4 linked regions of the Homo sapiens genome follow. The protein of the gene in region 1 purifies or fractionates together with the protein of each later gene. This does not show direct contact. Each region holds a gene or a part of one and is shown in the gene's direction. Other genes may lie near its edges.

Region 1 (5,152 bases):
TCCATTTCACAAAAAAAAAATAAAATAAAATATTTTTAAATGGAAACACATAAAACATAACTACTTTGAATCAGATAATCAATTGTATTACTCTTGTTGACAGTTATGTGGCCCTTAAGAAATATACTCTAATACGGTAAATCTTAGATATTATTATCTTCCATCTATTATTTACAATTTTTACAATTTACCATCTCTCTCATATCATGAGATTCTAAGTTTTAGACCATGTTAATGTTTCTTTTTTGCTGGTTCGTGTTTTCAAGATTTGGCAAACCAAATGAAGGTTTTTTTTATTTTTCTCATACTTATTTTTTTCTGTGCTCAGCTTCAGATAAACCAGTCGATCATTTTCTGTAACTCCTCTCAGCGAGTTGAATTGCTAGCCAAGAAGATTTCTCAACTGGGTTATTCTTGCTTCTATATTCATGCTAAAATGAGGCAGGTGAGTATAAAACTAGAACTTGCACAAATTTAATAAGAAATCTCTTTCTTTATTTTGTTTTAATGTTCTTTTAAATGTCCTGAGTTTAAGAATAAACTGTTCCTTAGTAGCCAAAGGACCTTTCATTTTGACCTCCCTCAGGTTCAATTTTCTAGCAATAAAATAGGGATAATAGTACATATTCATAACTTACAAGGTTGTTAGGAAAATTAAGATAAATGTTTAAATGAGTACTTTGGAAGCTGTCAGGCATGATACAAATGTAAAATTTTATTCTTCCCTTCCTTTCCATGTTTAATTCTCTGTTTAATACAGTAAATAGCCACATGTGGCAATTTAAATCAGTTAAAATTAAAATAAAAAGTCAGTTTCTCAATCACAGCCACATTTCAAGTGCTCAGTTAGGCACCTGTTGCTACTGGATAGTGTATTGGAATTGGAAGTACAGACACAAATATTTCCTTTATTATAGAAGTTTTACTGGACAGCACTGCTCTGGATTTTTAAATATGGCCCCTCAGCTGGCTGATTTTTCTTTTTTTCTTTACTGTTTGCCTTTAGAAAAAGATACAATATCTAAATTTCAGAATTTGATTTAGCAAAAAATAATTTAAAACTGTAACAAAAATGACTTTTTTGTTAACTACATTATGAAATTTCGTAAGTAAACAGTTTCTGTAGACGAAGATATCAAGAACTTAACTCATTTGGTTTTGAAAGCAGCTTAATATCATGGATCACTTATAAACAGATTTTGGGTAGAACTGATCGTCTGGGAGAAATAATTATGGGAAATTTGGGGCTGTATATGAGTGTTAATCAAATGGAATACATTGCTTTCTCCTAGGAACATCGAAATCGTGTATTTCATGATTTCCGAAATGGCTTATGCCGCAATCTTGTTTGCACTGGTAAGTATTTTTGTATTTCCTTTACCCAGTGTTTTTCTCCCAAGTTGTTTTTTGCTTTCTCTGTTCATATTACATAGTGCAACCTGTGACATAGTCCGACACACCCTACCACTACTTCTAGGATTTCTGAAGTTGAAAATGAACTCTTGTCAGCTCCTGATACTGGGTTCCATATCTGAAACTTTAGAAGACTTACTCTGGCACTCATACCTCATCTCTGTCTTTTTTTTGGGGGGGGGGGGGAGGGGGATGGAATCTTTGTCACCCAGGCTGGAGTGCAGTGGTGCGATCTTGGCTCTCTGAAACCTCCACCTCCTGGGTTCAAGTGATTCTCCTGCCTCAGCCTCCCAAGTAGCTGGGATTGTGGGCGCCTGCTACCGCTTAGCCCGGCTAATTTTTGTATTTTTGGTAGAGACAGGGATTTCACCATGTTGGCCAGGCTGGTCTCGAACTCCTGACCTCAGGTGATCTTCCTGCTTTGGTCTCCCAAAGTGCTGGGATTACAGGCTTGAGTGCACCCAGCCTCTTTTAGACACATTTTTTAAAACTTGCTTACAATTACTGGAAAAAAGTAACTTGGGAGCAGAAAGTTATTTATGATAATGTGATTATGAAAGGTAATGCCAGTAATGTGCAAATGCATTTGAATAACTGAATTAAATTAATAAACTTAGGTTATGCTAGAAATATGTGTTAGTATTGTACTGAGAGACATTTCTAAATTGAAAAAATGAAAATTATCTTTTTTTTTTTAAGATCTGTTTACCCGAGGTATTGATATACAAGCTGTGAATGTGGTAATAAACTTTGATTTCCCAAAGCTGGCAGAGACCTATCTCCATCGTATTGGAAGATCAGGTGAGGAAAAAAGAGGTGATATTCTTGGTAGAAGTTCTTTTTTGAGGCGTGTAATGACTAAATTTTGTTCTTTTGTGAAATAGAGTACAGTAGCTATGAGAACAGTGAATTAACAGTAATTCAGTTGTTTGGTATTTAAGACTAATTTCTAATTCTTCTGTAGCATTTATTAAGAAAAGTTAAAATAACTGCTTAATTTGAGATGAAATTAACACATGAGAACTTCACTCATTAGGTGGTATGTTCTGTGACTGTTGTTTAATGTGTATTTTATGGCAGTTTTGACTGCCATTTTGTCATTTGAGAAAGGTGAAATGAAGTACTATTTTGGGCTGCGAAACCTGAAGTTGTAGGGAAACCTGTGTTTGAAGACCATTAAGAAGTTGTTTTGCATACTAAGAATGGCACTGAACATCATTATCAATCCTGTGTGGTTTTGCCACTGCTTGACTTGCACAATTCACATTGATTTTCATATTTTATTCATTAAAATTTTTAAACGCATGTTTTTTAGGTCGCTTTGGTCATCTTGGCTTAGCCATCAACTTGATCACATATGATGATCGCTTCAACCTGAAAAGTATTGAGGAGCAGCTGGGAACAGAAATTAAACCTATTCCGAGCAACATTGATAAGAGCCTGTATGTGGCAGAATACCACAGCGAGCCTGTAGAAGATGAGAAACCTTAACAAGCATGTACGTCCCTGACAGAACAGCTAAGAGGAACCTTTAAATGAGGGAAATCAAAATCTTCTTTCCTGGGGGAAATTTGATGTCACACCATATATAATAGCAATAAAGGGTAAAATACCCACTAGCATAAATGACAGTAAATAATATCTCTTGTGGGAGGTTGTAGTCTCATTCGAGAATCTGTAAATGTTGTTCTTGAATGCAGCTTCCCGGGTAATGTGGTAGATTAGCAGTACTTAAATTCAGAGTCCTAAAATAATGAAAGCAAAAAAGAATGTTTTTCAGCAATTTGTTTTTCTTTTTGAGACAAGGTCTCACTGTCATCCAGGCTGGAGTGCAGTGGTGCAATCATAGCTCACTGCAGCCTGGTTCTCCTGGGCTCCTGAGTAGCTGGAACTGTAGGCACATGCCACCACGCCTGCCTAATGTTTTAAATTTTTGGTAGAAACAAGGTCTTGCTTTGTTGCCTAGGCTGGTCCAGAACTCCTGAACTCCAGCAGTCCTCCTGCCTTGGCTTCCCAAAGTGTTAGGATTATAGGCGCAAGCCACTGTGCCACTGTGCCTGGCCTTTTTTGACAGTTTTGTAGGGGGGATTTTTGTTGTTTTTGTTTTTTGAGAGTCTTGCTCTGTTGCCCAGGCTGGAGTACAGTGGCACAATCACGGCCCACTGCAACCTCTGCCTCCCAGGTTCAAGCGATTCTGGTGCACCTCAGCCTCCCAAGTAGCTGGAATTACAGGCATGCTCCACCATGCCCAGCTAATTTTTGTATTTTTTAGTAGAGTTGGAGTTTCACCATGTTGGCCAGGTTGGTCTTGAACTCCTGACCTCAAGTGATCTACCCGCCTCAGCCTCCTAAAGGGAGGCTGGGATTACAGGTGTGAGCCACCACACTGCCAGCAGTTTTGAATATGAAAGTATTTACATTTCTGAAAATGTAAAATGTTTTTAGCATTTACTCTTAATTTCTAGTAAGTACATTAATCACTCTGATAAAACTATCCATAATACCTTATTAGCAAATGTTTAATCAGATTATGAGGATGGCCATCTTTTTAAAATACCCACTCTGGGCCGGGTGCGGTGGCTCACACCTGTAATCCCAGTACTTTGGGAGGCCGAGGTGGGCGGATCACGAGGTCAAGAGATCGAGACCATCCTGGCCAACATGGTGAAACCCTGTCTCTACTAAAAATACAAAAATTAGCCGGGCATGGTGACACGCACCTGTAGTCCCAGCTACTCGGGAGGCTGAGGCAGGCGAATCACTTGAACCTGGGAGGTGGAGGTTACAGTGAGCTGAGACCGCACCACTGCACTCCAGCCTGGGTGACAAAGCTAGACTCCATCTCAAAAAAAAAAAAAAAAAAAAAGCCACTTGGGCTGGCTCAGTGGCTCACACCTGTAATCCCAGCACTTTGGGAGGCCGAGGTGGGTGGATTACCTGAGGTCAGGACTTCAAGACCAGCCTGGCCAACCTGGTGAGACCCCGTGTCCACTAAAGATACAGAAAATTAGCCAGGCATGGTGGCGGGCGCCTGTAATCCCAGCTAGTCAGGAGGCTGAGGCAGGAGAATCTCTTGAACCTGGGAGGCAGAGGTTGCAGTGAGCCGAGGTCATGCCATTGCACTCGAGCCTGGGCGATAAGAGTGAAACTCTGCCTCATATATAAATAACCCACTCTGATTTCCTAGGTAATAAGAGTGAAACTCCGTCAAATACATAAATAAAATACCCACTCTGATTTCCTGGACAACCTGTCTTCCCATCTTTTTTTTATTTTTATTAAGATGGGATCTCACTATGTTGCCCCGGCTGGTTTCAAACTCCTGGGTTCAAATGATCCTCCCACTTTGGCTTCCCAGAGTGCTGGGATTATAGGTGTGAGCCACCACGCCCTGCCTCTATCATCTTTTGGTGACTATTGGGCTCTAGTTAGAAATGCATGAAACAAGGCTCAGCTTTAAGCAAGGTAGGTTGTTTCAGTATTTCCTAAAGAAAATCTGATTTGACAAAGGATAGTTTCCAAGTTATAGGTGAACATCTTACCTATTTAAGTAACCTAATGTTACTTAAATTTTTTTTCTCTTTCTTTTTTAAATAGAGACGAGGATTTACCATGTTGGCCAGGCTGGTCTCAAACTCCTGACCTCAGGTGATCCGCCCACCTCAGCCTCCCAGAGTGCTGAGATTACTGGCAGGAGCCACCTCACCCAACCAATTGTTACTTAAATAATTTTTAAATT
Region 2 (4,325 bases), on another chromosome or scaffold:
AGATTTGTTTTTTTCTAATAGAGTACAATAAATATTAAACTTCATCCTTGCTCTCCAGTTTTTGAGAGAACAGGGGATATTGTAGTTGAATGCCTTTGTTATTAAAAAAAAAAAAATTGGAGCCGAGCGCGGTGGCTCATGCCCGGAATCCCAGTGTTTTGGGAGGCCAGGGCGGGTGGATCACTTGAGGCCAGGAGTTCGGGACCAGCCTGGCCAATGCAGTGAAAACCCCATCTCTACTTAAAAAAAAAAAATTAGCTGGGCATGATGGTGCATACCTATAACCCCAGCTACTCAAGAGGCTGAGGCAGGAGAATCGTTTGAACCCAGAAGGCGGAGGTTGCAGTGAGCCAAGATCACACCACTGCACTCCAGCCTGGGCAACAGAACAAGACTCCATCTCAAAAAAAAAAAAAAAGGAAAGAAAATTGTCAAATTTTCTTTTTTGCTATCATACCACTTCCTTAAACATGTTAAAAATATGTCCGTTAGAAATTGTGAAGCCTCTTTAAAAAAGATGTGCTGTATTATGTATTTTCAGAATCAGAAGATGAAGTAGAAGAGGAACAAGAAGAAAGACAACCATCTCCTGAACCTGTGCAAGAAAATGCTAACAGTGGTTACTATGAAGCTCACCCTGTGACGTAAGCATACTATTTGCAAGGTTAAATTTGGTCTGAACTATGTCAGCAAGGTGGTTTCTGTTCCTAGAATTATTGTTGAAAGTAAATTCTTGATAAAACCACCTATTATGTCAGTATTTGAGTACCTATTGTGTATATGCAAGAAATTTGGAAAGAATGGTTTTATTTAATACAAAAATTGAACATGGCTTGCACCAAAACAGTGGTTCCTTACTGATAATGTAGAGTGTTGAAGACAACACAGAGTAAGCATTTTATTTTTATAAAAGATAAGGTTTATAGTTAGCACTAAAGTAAACATTCTTAGTAATTCAGTTTTGAAATGGTGGGATTAAAGAACTGCTACTTGAGAGTATTATTCCTTCTGTCTTATAGCTCTTTTTGGAATTTTGCTTTGAATACTTTGTAGATCTAGAACAAGTTATTGGCATATAACTAGTTACACCCATTGGATTAGAGAGAAATTGAATTTTTTCTTACTTGAACTCCTACTAAAAAGTGAACTAAATATTTTATTGTAGTAATGGCATAGAGGAGCCTTTGGAAGAATCCTCTCATGAACCTGAACCTGAGCCAGAATCTGAAACAAAGACTGAAGAGCTGAAACCACAAGTGGAGGAGAAGAACTTAGAAGAACTAGAGGAGAAATCTACTACTCCTCCTCCGGCAGAACCTGTTTCTCTGCCACAAGAACCACCAAAGGTTAGATCAAAGAACTCTTTAGACTTACAACATCACATGTTCAAATTTGGTGCTGTTAATGAAGTATGACCTTTTTCTATTATGTTAAATTGTTTAGTAAATTATTTTATGTATATGAAAGAAGCTGTGGGGTTTGTTTGTTACCTGAGAAAATGTTATTGTTTCCCTGCCCCGCAAAATACCCCTCTAAGAGTGAAACTTATAACTTAAGATGAATCCTTGTCTGTATGCATTGTTTAGTAACTTATATGAAATTATTTGGATCCATGTATAGAGCTGTCAGTTGTTCTTTCATTCTGTATTAAATTCTCTGAGCACAGATGCACCAGGAATCATGCAGTTTCCCAACTTAAACAAGTTGGTCTATAATTAAAAGAAGAGATACCTGTTGTTTGTGGTTTAAATGGGATCAGTTTCCTTTCTACACCAATTAAACTATCTTGGAAAGATGAGTGACATCCTTAGTGTATCATGTAAGCCTACCTGAAACTTCTTTTATCTTTCTTCAAAGTCAAAGGTTAAAGTATATTTGAGTGGTGATAGGAGGAGATTCTTTGTTCAATTTGTGAATGTCAGAGTTTCCAGCTAATACTCTCTTCTTTCCTATCCTTCCCTCTCCCGTTAACACCATCACACACCCTATCTTACCCCCAAAGGGGAAATAAATTGTTTCTATTAGGTTCAGGTTTTTCTAGCATGTTTGTTAGTGGTTTTGTTTGCCACTTGCTCATCTACTTAGAGTACGTAGGAACTTGCTTATGGTTTTACTTAGTAGTCAGACAAAAGTTATAAATAAGCTTGCATAATGAGATTTTGAAAGCTGGCACATAGACTGGCATGTGTGTGTGTGCCTTTCTTTTAGGAGTCTTCCAATATAGAGCAATAGTTTAGAAATGAAAAGAAAATATATATTTGGAAGTTTCCCTATAGGAATGTTGGTGGTTTTCCATGATTAGTAGTCTAGGTTTGTTGCATTTCCTGCAGGCTTTCTCCTGGGCTTCAGTGACCAGTAAAAACCTGCCTCCTAGTGGTACTGTTTCTTCCTCTGGAATTCCACCCCATGTTAAAGCACCAGTCTCACAGGTAACCAATCTGTGAACACATTGGATTGTATCCTTGTTACATTGCCAATTGCTTATTTTTAAAATACTTTTAAAAATGAGTCAATCAGAAATTATGGATTAAATATACAAAAAACTTGTATTATATGTCAGTGCACCCACTTTAAATGTCAAATCTCCATTCATCATCTACATAGGTGGTATTTGGGGTTTGGGTGTGTGAAATACAGATTAAGTTGGTTTTTACCAGTATATAATATTGTCATTTAAAAGGCTTCTTAAAATAACAAAAAGAATGTTCCTTTTTCAAAAGCTTCAAATTCTATTTAGCAAAAATATTTTAGGTAAGAAATTCGGAGAGGCACAAAGTAGTGTGGCGTAATAAAGAATCGTTTTTGTTTTTTTTTTTTTTTTTAAAGCAAAAAAAAAAAAAACCAGGAAACTTTTTAACATACGCTGCCTAAGCTCTCAGTGTGTAAGTGGTTCACACCACTTAATTGAAGCCTGTACCAACTTATGACTGTAGTGTTCACCTTAACTGATCATTCTAGTATTCTGCTTTTTGTCTGTTTGTCATCTTACCCATTTCAGAGCTTTCAAAAATGTGAAAATAAGACACTGCCTACCTAAGAAGTTTGTTAGATTTAGTTTAGAATGAACTAAATTCTAATTAAGTTTATCAGCATATAAAGGGTGTCCAATTTTTTCCCTACATTTTGCATTAAACTTCATTCCACTAGAAAATTTATGTTTGAAATGTTAGTATATAAATGTATCTTTTATATGTTCTAAGCAGTGAAATTTTGAGGTTTTAAAAGTAGTAATTTTTAGTTTTTTGGTGTTGGGACACATAATCAGCTACATAAAAGTAGAATACGCCCGTGATACTTTTTTTTTTTTTTCATTTGGGTATTCAGGCAATGCGTGGTTACCCTTATGTAAGATGGTCACCCAGAGTTCCATCTTAACAAAGGAAATTAGTTTGTGCAGTATTGTTTTGTGCTTTTCTACCCATATGAAGACCCAATAAATAACTTTTGGCCCTTCTTTTGGAATCTTCATTTCCTATCAGATTTGGATTTGGAACCTTTGGATTATTTCATTTCAGAGAGTTTAAACAGTTAAAAGTTAAAATAGCTAGTGCTTATGCCTTTGATATGCGCCAAGCATTGTGTGAAGCACTTTTTGTTCATTTTCAGTGAATCCTCACAACCACCCTGTCAGGGTGGGTACTATTGTTTCTGTTTTAGAGATCAAAAAATTGAGGTCTAGAGTAACTCACAGACATTTATGTACATAGTAGGGTTGGGCTTTGAAGTCATGCAGTGGGACATGAGTCCATATGTGGCTCATGTAAACGTTTATTTTTTTGAGACAGAGTCTCGCTCTGTCGCCCAGGCTGGAGTGCAGTGGTAGTGGCAGTGGCGTTATCTTAGCTCACTGCAACCTCCACCTCCCCAGCTCAAGTGATTCTCCTGCCTCAGCCTCCCGAATAGCTGGGATTGTAGGTGCCCGCCACCACGCCTGGCTAATTTTTGTATATTTAGTAGAGACGGGGTTTCACCATGTAGACCAGGCTGGTCTCAAACTCCTGACCCAAGTGATCCACCCGCATTGGCCTCCCAAACGGTGGGGATTACAGGCATGAGCCACTGCGCCCAGCCTCATGTAAACCTTATGCAATTCTCCAGCACCTTGCTGCAGAGTCATGTATCTTATCTGTATTTGCATCAAAGAGGACTCTTAAGACATGCCTGATTAAATCCTAGTCTCTTGCCCAGAAAAATACCTTCATATTTATCTCAAGTAGTTTGCCTTAAATATATTTTCAAAGTTAGTTGTAGGAAATGAAGTTGTATTTCCTATGCCACCCCTTTAATAAAACAAAAATTTTAAATGTTTAGAATTTAAACTTTAA
Region 3 (5,105 bases), on another chromosome or scaffold:
AGCCTGTGCAGTCAGTTCTGATACCTCCTGTGACTTCTGCTCTGGGTAGGTTCAGGGCCCTAGTAGCAGGAGAGATGATCCTGAATCCTGTTGAAGCTGGAGAGGCCTTGGCAAAATGGCTCATCACGTTCAGGCCCTCCGGGCTGAGTTGTCAGCAGTATCAAGGGAGGGGCCTGCTCTATCCCCAGAAGGATCAGGATCATATCCAGGATGCCCCACATACACCAAGCCAGGCAGAGGGCAGCTCAGCTCCTGTCCCATCTGCTTTGGATATCTTTACCCAAAGGCAGGTAACCCGAAGAGCCAGCCTCCACTGCCCACAGAGCCAGGCCCAGTTGTGTTGGAGTATAGGTCAGGAGCTGTGGAAGGAGGCAGTCTGTGAGGGACTCATGCTTTAGGAGTCCTCACCCCTCAGACTGCTGCAGGACATTGCCAGGCCTCTCTCCACTTCCTTCCTCAGCATACAGACTTCATGCTATCTTCCAATTCCGGGGAGTCTTAGCTATTAGGGCAGTTTCTGCTTCTCCATTTTGGGGACAAAGGCCTTGCCCAGTACAAATCTAGCCCCTTGTCCCACAGACTTCTGGATGGTATAAACCTAGTGGCAATGTAGCAACCATAGGCTAGAACCAAACCCAAGATTTGGGTCAGTGCCCTGTTAAGGGTTTTAGGATTGGTAAGGACACCACAGCTAAATCTGACATGTAAAAGGATACCCTTCCCCTGTCCCACTACGGGTGGAGGCTAAGGACCTCCTCAGATCCCACAGATTGCCTGGTGACATTGGGCACAGGGCTGGATGGTGTGCTGTTTGAGAGGACAGCATGCTCAGGAGATTTCAGTGGGAATGATCTCTAGGCTGATGTGTATTTGGGGAAGTGGGGGTGGGGAAGAGGTAGGTGCCTGCTGCCTCAAACCACCTTGTGTAAAATCTGCAATACGGCTTCTTCCATGTACCTGTGCCTGAACTGTCTGCAATAAAGAAGAATTTGTAAACTGTGGTTTCTTTCTTCCAACCTGAGGGTGCCAGGTGGGACAAGGGGATGCTGGGGGACAGTAGGGAACAATGACTGGTCATTGTAGTGGGATCATCTCCCCTGCTCTTGCAATTCCTGAGTTTTATGACCTCGAGGGTAGCCTCAGGCCTTGAGTTATTCCGACCCATTCCCAAAGGGAACCTGAGGCACCTGCCAATTCAGCATATTCTGGGGGTCTGAGGGACCTTAGCATGGGCGGCTAAGTTGACCCCGTCCCAGGACCATCGGAGTCCATGCTCTGGGAGTGGGCAGGGACCTGGCGCCTTCTGAGTCGAGTAGGGCTTTAGGTGGCCCAGTGCGTGGACGCTTACTTCAGCCCCGTGGGACTTTCCTGACCTCGCGGACACAGGGGCGGGGCCGCCGAGGGGGACTGGCTGCGGGAGGGGTTTAGGCTTCCGCCCCCAGCCCGGAACCTTTCTTCTCCGGCCCTGGCAGGTTCCGGGAGCCTCGGCTCGTGGGTGCCGGAAGTGGAGGCGGTTGGTGGGGTTGGCGGGGCTCAGCGACGCTGCGCGGGTGGCGGTTTGCGAACTGCGGGTGGACTGTGTAGTGACCGGCGTCCCGCTGTCTCGCCCCGTGGCGGGTGAGCGAGGGTGCGTGGTGCGCGGCGGCGGCGGAACGAACGCGGTGCGGGCGGGGCGCCCGCCGCAGGGCCCATGGCCTCCTGCGCGAGCATCGACATCGAGGACGCCACGCAGCACCTGCGGGACATCCTCAAGCTGGACCGGCCCGCGGGCGGTGAGCGGGGGTTGCGGGGGTGGGCCCCAGGCGAGCTGACAAAAGGGCGGCGCGCGTCTGAACCGCCATTGGGGCCCACAGCTCCCTTAGGACTAGCTCTGGATCCTCCCGGCGGGTAAGGGTGGACGGGGATTGACTGTGCCCCTCGAAGGGCGCAGACCCCTGGGTGTGACCCCTCCCTATCTTGTCCTCAGGCTGTTCTGCCTTGTCCTTCAGCGTCTCGGTTGAAGGTGAGGCGCCTTCTCTGAATCCGCTGGGGCCCTCTGGTTTCCTGGCCCCGAGGTCTCTAGTGTTCCTGGGACTGGCCTAGCTCCTCTTCCCTTTCTCCATGGTTCAGAGGCCTGGTCTGGGCTCCGTATATGGAATTCTGGGCCCAGGCTTAAGCGCGATGCTGAAGAGCTGCCGGTCCCCCTCCATAACTTGCCCTTCTCTCTGGAATAAAGACTCCAGGCCTCCCGTTCTGAAACTGATTTCCAGGAGGAAGGTGTCCAGTCTCAATTCCGTGTTCTTTCTGGGATGAAGGCAAATCACAGACCGCACCACCCTGACTGAATTATGCTACAAATATCTGCAAGCCCTAATTGGTTCCCATTCATTCATATTTCGCTTTGGCTCTTAATGATACCTCAGAACTAGTCTTGCCCCCAAAGATTCCCCAAGACACAGCTAACAGGGTTGTAATATACTGTTGTCATTGAAAGAAAGGAGTGTCTCGATACTGTGATGGGCGTGGGAAGGGTGGAGGCTGGTGAGTGCAGAGTGCAGGTCTGAGAGGGGAGACTGGGCTAGGTCTTGTAATGTGAACAGGGGCTTGGGTGTCAGGAAAGGCACCCAAGGCACCTATGGAGAAGCCACCTATTAGGAAGAGGAAATAGCACGTGTGCAGGCACTAGTTTACTGACAGGTTTAGGGATCTCTGAAGTGGCCGGTGATGATGGTGTGGGCGTACAGTGGAGAATTGTGTTTCCTCAGATCTTGTTCTTACACCTGCTGGGAGGCCCAGACTGGCTGCTTCTGGAAGCAGGCACTGGTGCTCACTAGGGGTGGATTCAACTAACCCCTACTTTCAGAAAATCCATCTGCTGCCTGAGACCACTCGGCCCTTTGTCCCAGGCCTGGAGTGTGTGCCCTCTTTACTCATGAGTTGGGCGTGGACCTCTCCTGCTGCTCAGCTGCTTTGTAGACTAGACTCCGCAGAGATTTGGTAGAGCCTGGCATGGCCAACCATGTACAGCCTGAGCCTGCTTTTTGGTTGTCCTCATGGTACCCTTCATGGAAGGGAGAGTTGTCAGCTTGTCCCTGAGCAGCTAAAGTGGCTCTGATCTGAATGAAGTGGCCTGGAGGCTTTCCTTATAACTACTTTGTTTATTGATTGGCACTTGATTCCCTTGTTTGCCAAGCAGCTCTTTCTTGTCTCCTCTCACTGGACGACCAGGTCAGAACTCAGACTATTGAGGACTGGGCGCGGTGGCTCACACCTGTAATCCCAGCACTTTGGGAGGCCGAGGTGGGTGGATTGCTTGAGGCCAGGAGTTCGAGACCAGCCTGGCCAACATGGTTTCTTAACATGGTGAAACCTTATCTCTACTAAAAATATAAAAATTAGGTGAGCTGTAATCCCAGCTACTTGGGAGGCTGATGCAGGAGAATCCCTTGAACCCAGGGGGTAGAGGTTGCCATGAGCCGAGATCGCGCCAAAATAATTCAAAGACTGTTGTGACTGGAAACTTGCTATGTTCTGAATGTGGAGCCCTAGGCTCCTTGCCACCTGGGGATTTTGGAAATGGTGTCTGAGCCTATGAGAGTGTTTGAAACCCAGCCAGTTGCAAAGAACTGAAATGCTGTCTTTCCTTACTCCACACGCTGCCCCATAGTTTCTCTCCTTTTGGTCCAGCTCCTTTATGTCCCTGCCTTCTGTGTTTACTTGCCCAAGATAGCTTCTTCTGAGCCATTTCTGTGTGGGGCAGCCCCTTCCACATCTTACCAGTGCCCTTCCATGCCTTAGGAGCCCATCTTCTCTCCAAACTCTGACACTACATTGGTCTAGGCCTTGATCTCTCTCACCCAGATTCTCAACCATTCTGCATGCTATCTTAGAGTAATCTTCCCACTGGCCAGAACTGACCACATCACCTTCCCTTTTGAAACTCTTTATGGTTCTCATGGCCCACAGGGAGAGTCTAAGTGCCACGGCATCATACCTGATGCCTCTGTAGCTTTGTTTTCACTCCATCCTTCCTGTGTTTGTGTGTTCTGGTCACACTAACTGCTGTATAAAGTCTTTCCTGACCCCTCCTATGCCCTCACTCAGTCCACAGAGTTCTTCTGTAGTGACCCAGACCTGAGTATTCACTGCCCTCAAAGGGTCCTTGATGGCTTGTACCCCTCCCCCAGGTAGAAGAGCCTCATGCTCATCCTTGGTCCTGCCTACATCAGTGTTTATGGAACGAGAGATGAACACAGGGCCCTCCTCCTCATGGACATGCTTTGCTCAGTTGAGTGTTCCTAGAGCACCTCATAGTTCTTGAAGGAAACTCTGAAAGGGGAGAGGCTTGTGGGCAGGTCGAGCAACCTTATCAGAATGACCCTCTTTGTCCCCAGGCCCCAGTGCAGAGAGCCCACGGCCATCCAGTGCCTACAATGGGGACCTCAATGGACTTCTGGTCCCAGACCCGCTCTGCTCAGGTGATAGTACCTCAGCAAACAAGACTGGTCTTCGGACCATGCCACCCATTAACCTGCAAGAGAAGCAGGTCATGTGAGTACCTAGGAGACGACAATAGTGGTGATGGTGTATTTGGGGTGTCTGCTAGCTGAAGGCATGAGATGGGGAGTGAGCGGGGCCAGCAGCCTCTGCTGCTTCCTCTCTAGATGACCTGGGGTGGAGCTTGAGCTTGCACTAGGATGAGAGGCAAGGACAAGCTCAGGGGTTTGGCCTGGATACCTGGTTTAGAATGAAAGTAGGCTCATTCCCAAGGAAGGAGATGAGCAAGCAGAGCTGTGGGTCTGGGGCCAGTGGACCAGGCGAAGCTGACATTGGACTAGATACCTTCCCCAGTCTGGCTATGTCCTCGCTTCCTCCCAACCCTGCCCGCTGAGCCTTTGGGTGAACAAGAGGCAAAGTTTTTGCACTCTTCCCCACAGCTGTCTCTCAGGAGATGATAGCTCCACCTGCATTGGGATTTTGGCCAAGGAGGTGGAGATTGTGGCTAGCAGTGACTCTAGCATTTCAAGCAAGGCCCGGGGAAGCAACAAGGTAGGTACTGGGATGCTGTGGCATATATAATGTACGGGGGCACACCCAGCCTTTCCAGTCTCCCTCATGCTGCCAGT
Region 4 (4,325 bases), on another chromosome or scaffold:
TTTTAAAAAATGTAGGTTTAGTTTTTCTCTTTATTCCTGGATGTTATCAGTAGATCTTAAGAAGTAGCTTAACTCCCAAATAAGTTGAGAGCTTGCTTCTGCCTTTATGAAAGAGGACTTTTTAAATCTTGGAGTTCATGATGAACTAATAGTGCTGCTGGGGTTTGGGTGGTGGCGTTACCTATGAATGTCTTCAAATTGTGTATATGTGGATGTGTGCATACGTGAATATATGCATTTTCTGCTTGAAGATCTAAAGTGTTTTTCAGATTCTCGGAGGGTTTCATGACTTAGAAAAGTTTGAAAGCCACTGTCTTAAAGGTTCTTTTTTGTCTTTATGTTTGAATTTTGAGTTCTAACAGTTACATGCTTAGCATATTTTAATCTTGCACATAAAAGTTGATCTCTGGGAACCCCCAAGTCACTTTTGTGTGTGTATGTGTGAGACAGGGTCTTGCTTTGTTGCCCAGGTTGAACTTGAACGCCTGGGCTCAAGTGACCCTCCTGCCTCGGCCTTCTGAGTAGCTGGGATTACATGCATGCGTCACCATGCCTGCCCAAGTCTTTCTTTTTATTGGAGCCACTGCGCCCGGCGTTTTTTTTGAGACAGAGTCTCTCTGTGTCGCCCAGGCTGGAGTGCAGTGACGCGATCTCGGCTCACTGTAACCTCCGCCTCCCAGGTTAAGTGATTCTCGTGCCTCAGCCTCTGGAGTAGTTGGGACTACAGGTGTGTGCCACGACGCCTGGCCAAATTTTTTTTTTTTTTGGAGACAGGCACACACTGTCACACCCGGCTAATTTGTTTTATTTTAGTAGAGACGGGGTTTCATTCTGTTGCCCAGGCTGGTCTTGAACTCCTGAGCTCAGGCAGTCTGCTTGCCTCGGCCTCCCAAAGTGGTAAGATTATAGGTGTGAGCCACTGCTCCTGGCTCAATTTTTGTATTATTAGTAGAGATGGGGTTTCACCATGCTGGCCAGGCTGATCTTGAACTTCTGACCTCAAGTGATCTGCCTGCCTCAGCCTCCCAAAGTGCTGGGATTACAGGTGTCAGCCACCATGCCCGGCCCTAAGTCACTTTTTTGACAATTCCGTTTATTTAGTCAAAATTGAAGTTGATCATAATAATGCCTCAAGCCCTGTCATAGCCTGTGCTGTCCCCTGTACTTGGAACATTTTTCCTTCCAGAATGACTGGAGCCTTACCACCCATCAGCACTCAGTTAAATGGCACGTCTTCCAAGAAGTCTTCTCTGATCACCCAGGCTGAAGTAATTTGCCTGCATTATTCTCTCTCATAGTACCTTGTCCTTCACAGTTAAGGTGACCATATCATTTGTAGTCCAACCTGGGACATTTTTGAGAGTAAAGGGGAATGCTTTTATTTTACACAGGGACAACAGGTATAGATTAGGTTACCCTATTCATAGCTTTTTTTTTTTTTTTTTTTTTTGAGACGGAGTCTCGCTTTGTCGCCCAGGCTGGAGTGCAGTGGCGCCATCTCAGCTCACTGCAAGCTCCGCCTCCCGGGTTCATGCCATTCTCCTGCCTCAGCCTTCCTAGTAGCTGGGACTACAGGCGCCCGACACCACGCCCGGCTAACTTTTTTGTATTTTTAGTAGAGACGGGGTTTCACTGTGTTAGCCAGGACGGTCTCGATCTCCTGACTTTGTGATCCGCCCGCCTCGGCCTCCCAAAGTGCTGGGATTACAGGCGTGAGCCACCGCTCCTGGCCATAGTTGTTTACTTGTCTAGTGTCTGTCTCACTAAACTTTATTCTGCAGGGATGGGGACCATACCTATTTTATTTACTATTGAATATACAGAGCCTTGCACAGAGTATTTAATAAATATTTGTTGGATGAATAAGATGCCTCCAATTTTAGTAGCAGGTGCTTTTCATTAAGTCTCTTGAATTAATGTGGTGGAAGTTTTTCCCTCTAGAGGAATCTTGCAATAATGTGTATTACTTTGCCTCTCTTGGGAATGTGGTGTGTTCTGTACAGTTCAGCAAAGCAAGGAAACACTTAGGCAACTAAAATAATAGAGGGTAACTGATGCTGAGGCTAGTGAATGTCGTTACCTCAGATCTGGAGTTCCTATCTTGTCAGATTCTAGGGAAATGCCACACATTTTTTAGTGATGGCCAGGGACAGATTTGGAAGGCTATTGAGTTCATATGGGTGTTGTCTTGTATGGGATGTCCCATTCTTTGAAGCTTATAGGTTTTTGAAACCTTGGCTTAGTAATATACCTTCTACCAGAGTATAGGAGCTCTTTGAGTGTCTTCTATAAGCTCATGAAATTTTAAGACTTGTTAAATAATTTATTCCTTGGTGTTTTTTTTTTTTTTTTTTGAGATGGAGTTTCGCTCTTGTTGCCCAGGCTGGAGTGCAATGGTGCAACCTCGGCTCACCGCAACCTCCGCCTCCCGGGTTCAAGTGATTCTCCTGCCTCAGCCTCCTGAGTAGCTGGGATTACAGGCATGCACAGCCACACCCAGCTAATTTTGTATTTTTAGTAGAGACGGGGTTTCTCCGTGTTGGTCAGGCTGGTCTCGAACTCCCGACCTCAGGTGATCCGCCCGCCTCAGCCTCCCAAAGTGCTGGAATTACAGGCGTGAGCCACTGTGCCCAGCATTATTCCTAGTGTATTAAAGAACCAAATAGGCTCTGAGTTATTTTTTGGTGTTTATAGGGTATGATAAGTCTGTCACTAGATCTTTAGTGAGTAGTAAAGATCTGAAAGAGAGGTGATTTTCTGAAGTTAGAAAGTTGGCTCTTGTGACCAATGAGTGCCACCATTTAGAGGGGGTGGGGTAGTGTGGATGGGACTGTTAAGCAGGAGCTGTTAAGAAGCAGTTCTCTTCTTATGTTTGACCTCAGGTAGATATAGCTCTTGGTTAGTTTGTGGATTATCTTTGCCTTTAGGGTTTTCCTTGTTTACTAGCATTGTTGTAAACTAGCTGATTACCCAGTTTTTGAGGAAAGCAGCAGGAAGTAATAGCTTGGGGAACACCAGAAATCTTTACTTTTCTTACTCTGTGGCCTGCTTGCCAAATCTTGAAAGAGGTTTGCTGGGAAGAGGAGTCAGAAACTAAAAACTAAAATTAGGTTGGAGGGTTATCTTTGGATTTCGTTTATTCATTCTTCCGTTTGCAGAGATGTTTATGAGTAAGCTATATTGGCTTTCCCTTGAAATCAACCTTTTAGGATGCTTTGCGATTCCTTTTTGGAGATTGACTTAGAATTAGAGAGAGCCTTTTGGGCTACTGCTGAAAACAGCTATTTCGGGCAGCTATTAACATGTTGCATGAATGACGTGAAAAGTTAGTCTCATTTTTAAGATCACGGACTTGAGTTTTTCTTAAGATGGAGGATCATTTAAGCATATGGAAGGGAACTAATGTACTCTGGGATGTCTGGAAGAAAACTGTTGAAGTTTCAGTTGCTTGCAGTCTGGAGAAGCACTAGCCTACTCTATTTATTTTATTTTATTTATTTATTTTTTGAGACGAAGTCTTGCTCTGTCGCCCAGGCTGGAGTGCAGTGGCGCCATCTCGGCTCACTGCAAGCTCCACCTCCCGGGTTCATGCCATTCTCCTGCCTCAGCCTCCCGAGTAGCTGGGACTACAGGCGCCCGCCACCATGTCCGGCTAATTTTTTTGTATTTTTAGTAGAGACGGGGTTTCACCATGTTGGCCAGGATGGTCTCGATCTCCTGACCTTGTGATCCGCCCGCCTCGGCCTCCCAAAGTGCTGGGATTACAGGCTTGAGCCACCACACCCGGCCTACTCTAACTTTAGTCAAAGGTATCATCACATATTGGCCCATCTTGCTGACATAGTAAGTGATCTGCTTAATTAAACCTGTTGATAAAAACCGGATATTTGTTGACTCTGACCTAGCAGGAAATGGAAGAGAAGGGCTTATACAGGAAATACTTAATAATAGCTCAACTAGGGAAGGTATAAACTAGCAACTTCTTGGAAATTGGCCTGTTTTGCTTTCGAATGATAGTTCACTTCAGGCTAAGAAGTCTTATTTCTATCTCCAGCAGTAGCATGTAAGAGGAAGCTTGAGAGAGGACAGTAGGGTTGCAGTAGGGGGAATTCTTTTTTTTGAGACAGGGTCTCAGTCCATTGCCCGGTGTGATCTCGGTTCAAGCGATTCTCCTGTCTCAGCCTCCTGAGTAGCTGGGATTACAGGCGCCTGCTGCCACCATGCCCGGCTAATTTTTCTATTTTTAGTAGAGATGGGGTTTTGCCGTGTTGACCAGGCTGGCCTTGAACTCCTGACCTCAGATAATCCACCTGCGTCGGCCTCCT

What was found.
Region 2: the proteins of DDX6 (region 1) and G3BP2 purify together in Homo sapiens (affinity purification with mass spectrometry; 3 studies listed by BioGRID and IntAct, with this or other methods). This does not show direct contact.
Region 3: the proteins of DDX6 (region 1) and EDC4 purify together in Homo sapiens (affinity purification with mass spectrometry; 6 studies listed by BioGRID and IntAct, with this or other methods). This does not show direct contact.
Region 4: the proteins of DDX6 (region 1) and LSM12 purify together in Homo sapiens (affinity purification with mass spectrometry; 5 studies listed by BioGRID and IntAct, with this or other methods). This does not show direct contact.

The regions. Positions count from the first base shown.
Region 1 is NC_000011.10:118,752,464-118,757,615, reverse strand, and holds part of DDX6 (probable ATP-dependent RNA helicase DDX6), read left to right. Parts: intron 1-328; coding exon 329-445; intron 446-1,292; coding exon 1,293-1,356; intron 1,357-2,112; coding exon 2,113-2,214; intron 2,215-2,728; coding exon 2,729-2,904; 3' UTR 2,905-2,911; intron 2,912-5,152.
Region 2 is NC_000004.12:75,652,087-75,656,411, reverse strand, and holds part of G3BP2 (ras GTPase-activating protein-binding protein 2), read left to right. Parts: intron 1-541; coding exon 542-644; intron 645-1,165; coding exon 1,166-1,346; intron 1,347-2,330; coding exon 2,331-2,429; intron 2,430-4,325.
Region 3 is NC_000016.10:67,871,572-67,876,676, forward strand, and holds the start of EDC4 (enhancer of mRNA-decapping protein 4), read left to right. Parts: upstream 1-1,480; 5' UTR 1,481-1,690; coding exon 1,691-1,772; intron 1,773-4,373; coding exon 4,374-4,530; intron 4,531-4,916; coding exon 4,917-5,028; intron 5,029-5,105. UniProt on the Homo sapiens protein: In the process of mRNA degradation, seems to play a role in mRNA decapping. Component of a complex containing DCP2 and DCP1A which functions in decapping of ARE-containing mRNAs. Promotes complex formation between DCP1A and DCP2.
Region 4 is NC_000017.11:44,059,347-44,063,671, reverse strand, and holds part of LSM12 (protein LSM12), read left to right. Parts: intron 1-4,325. UniProt on the Homo sapiens protein: Nicotinic acid adenine dinucleotide phosphate (NAADP) binding protein. Confers NAADP sensitivity to the two pore channel complex (TPCs) by acting as TPC accessory protein necessary for NAADP-evoked Ca(2+) release.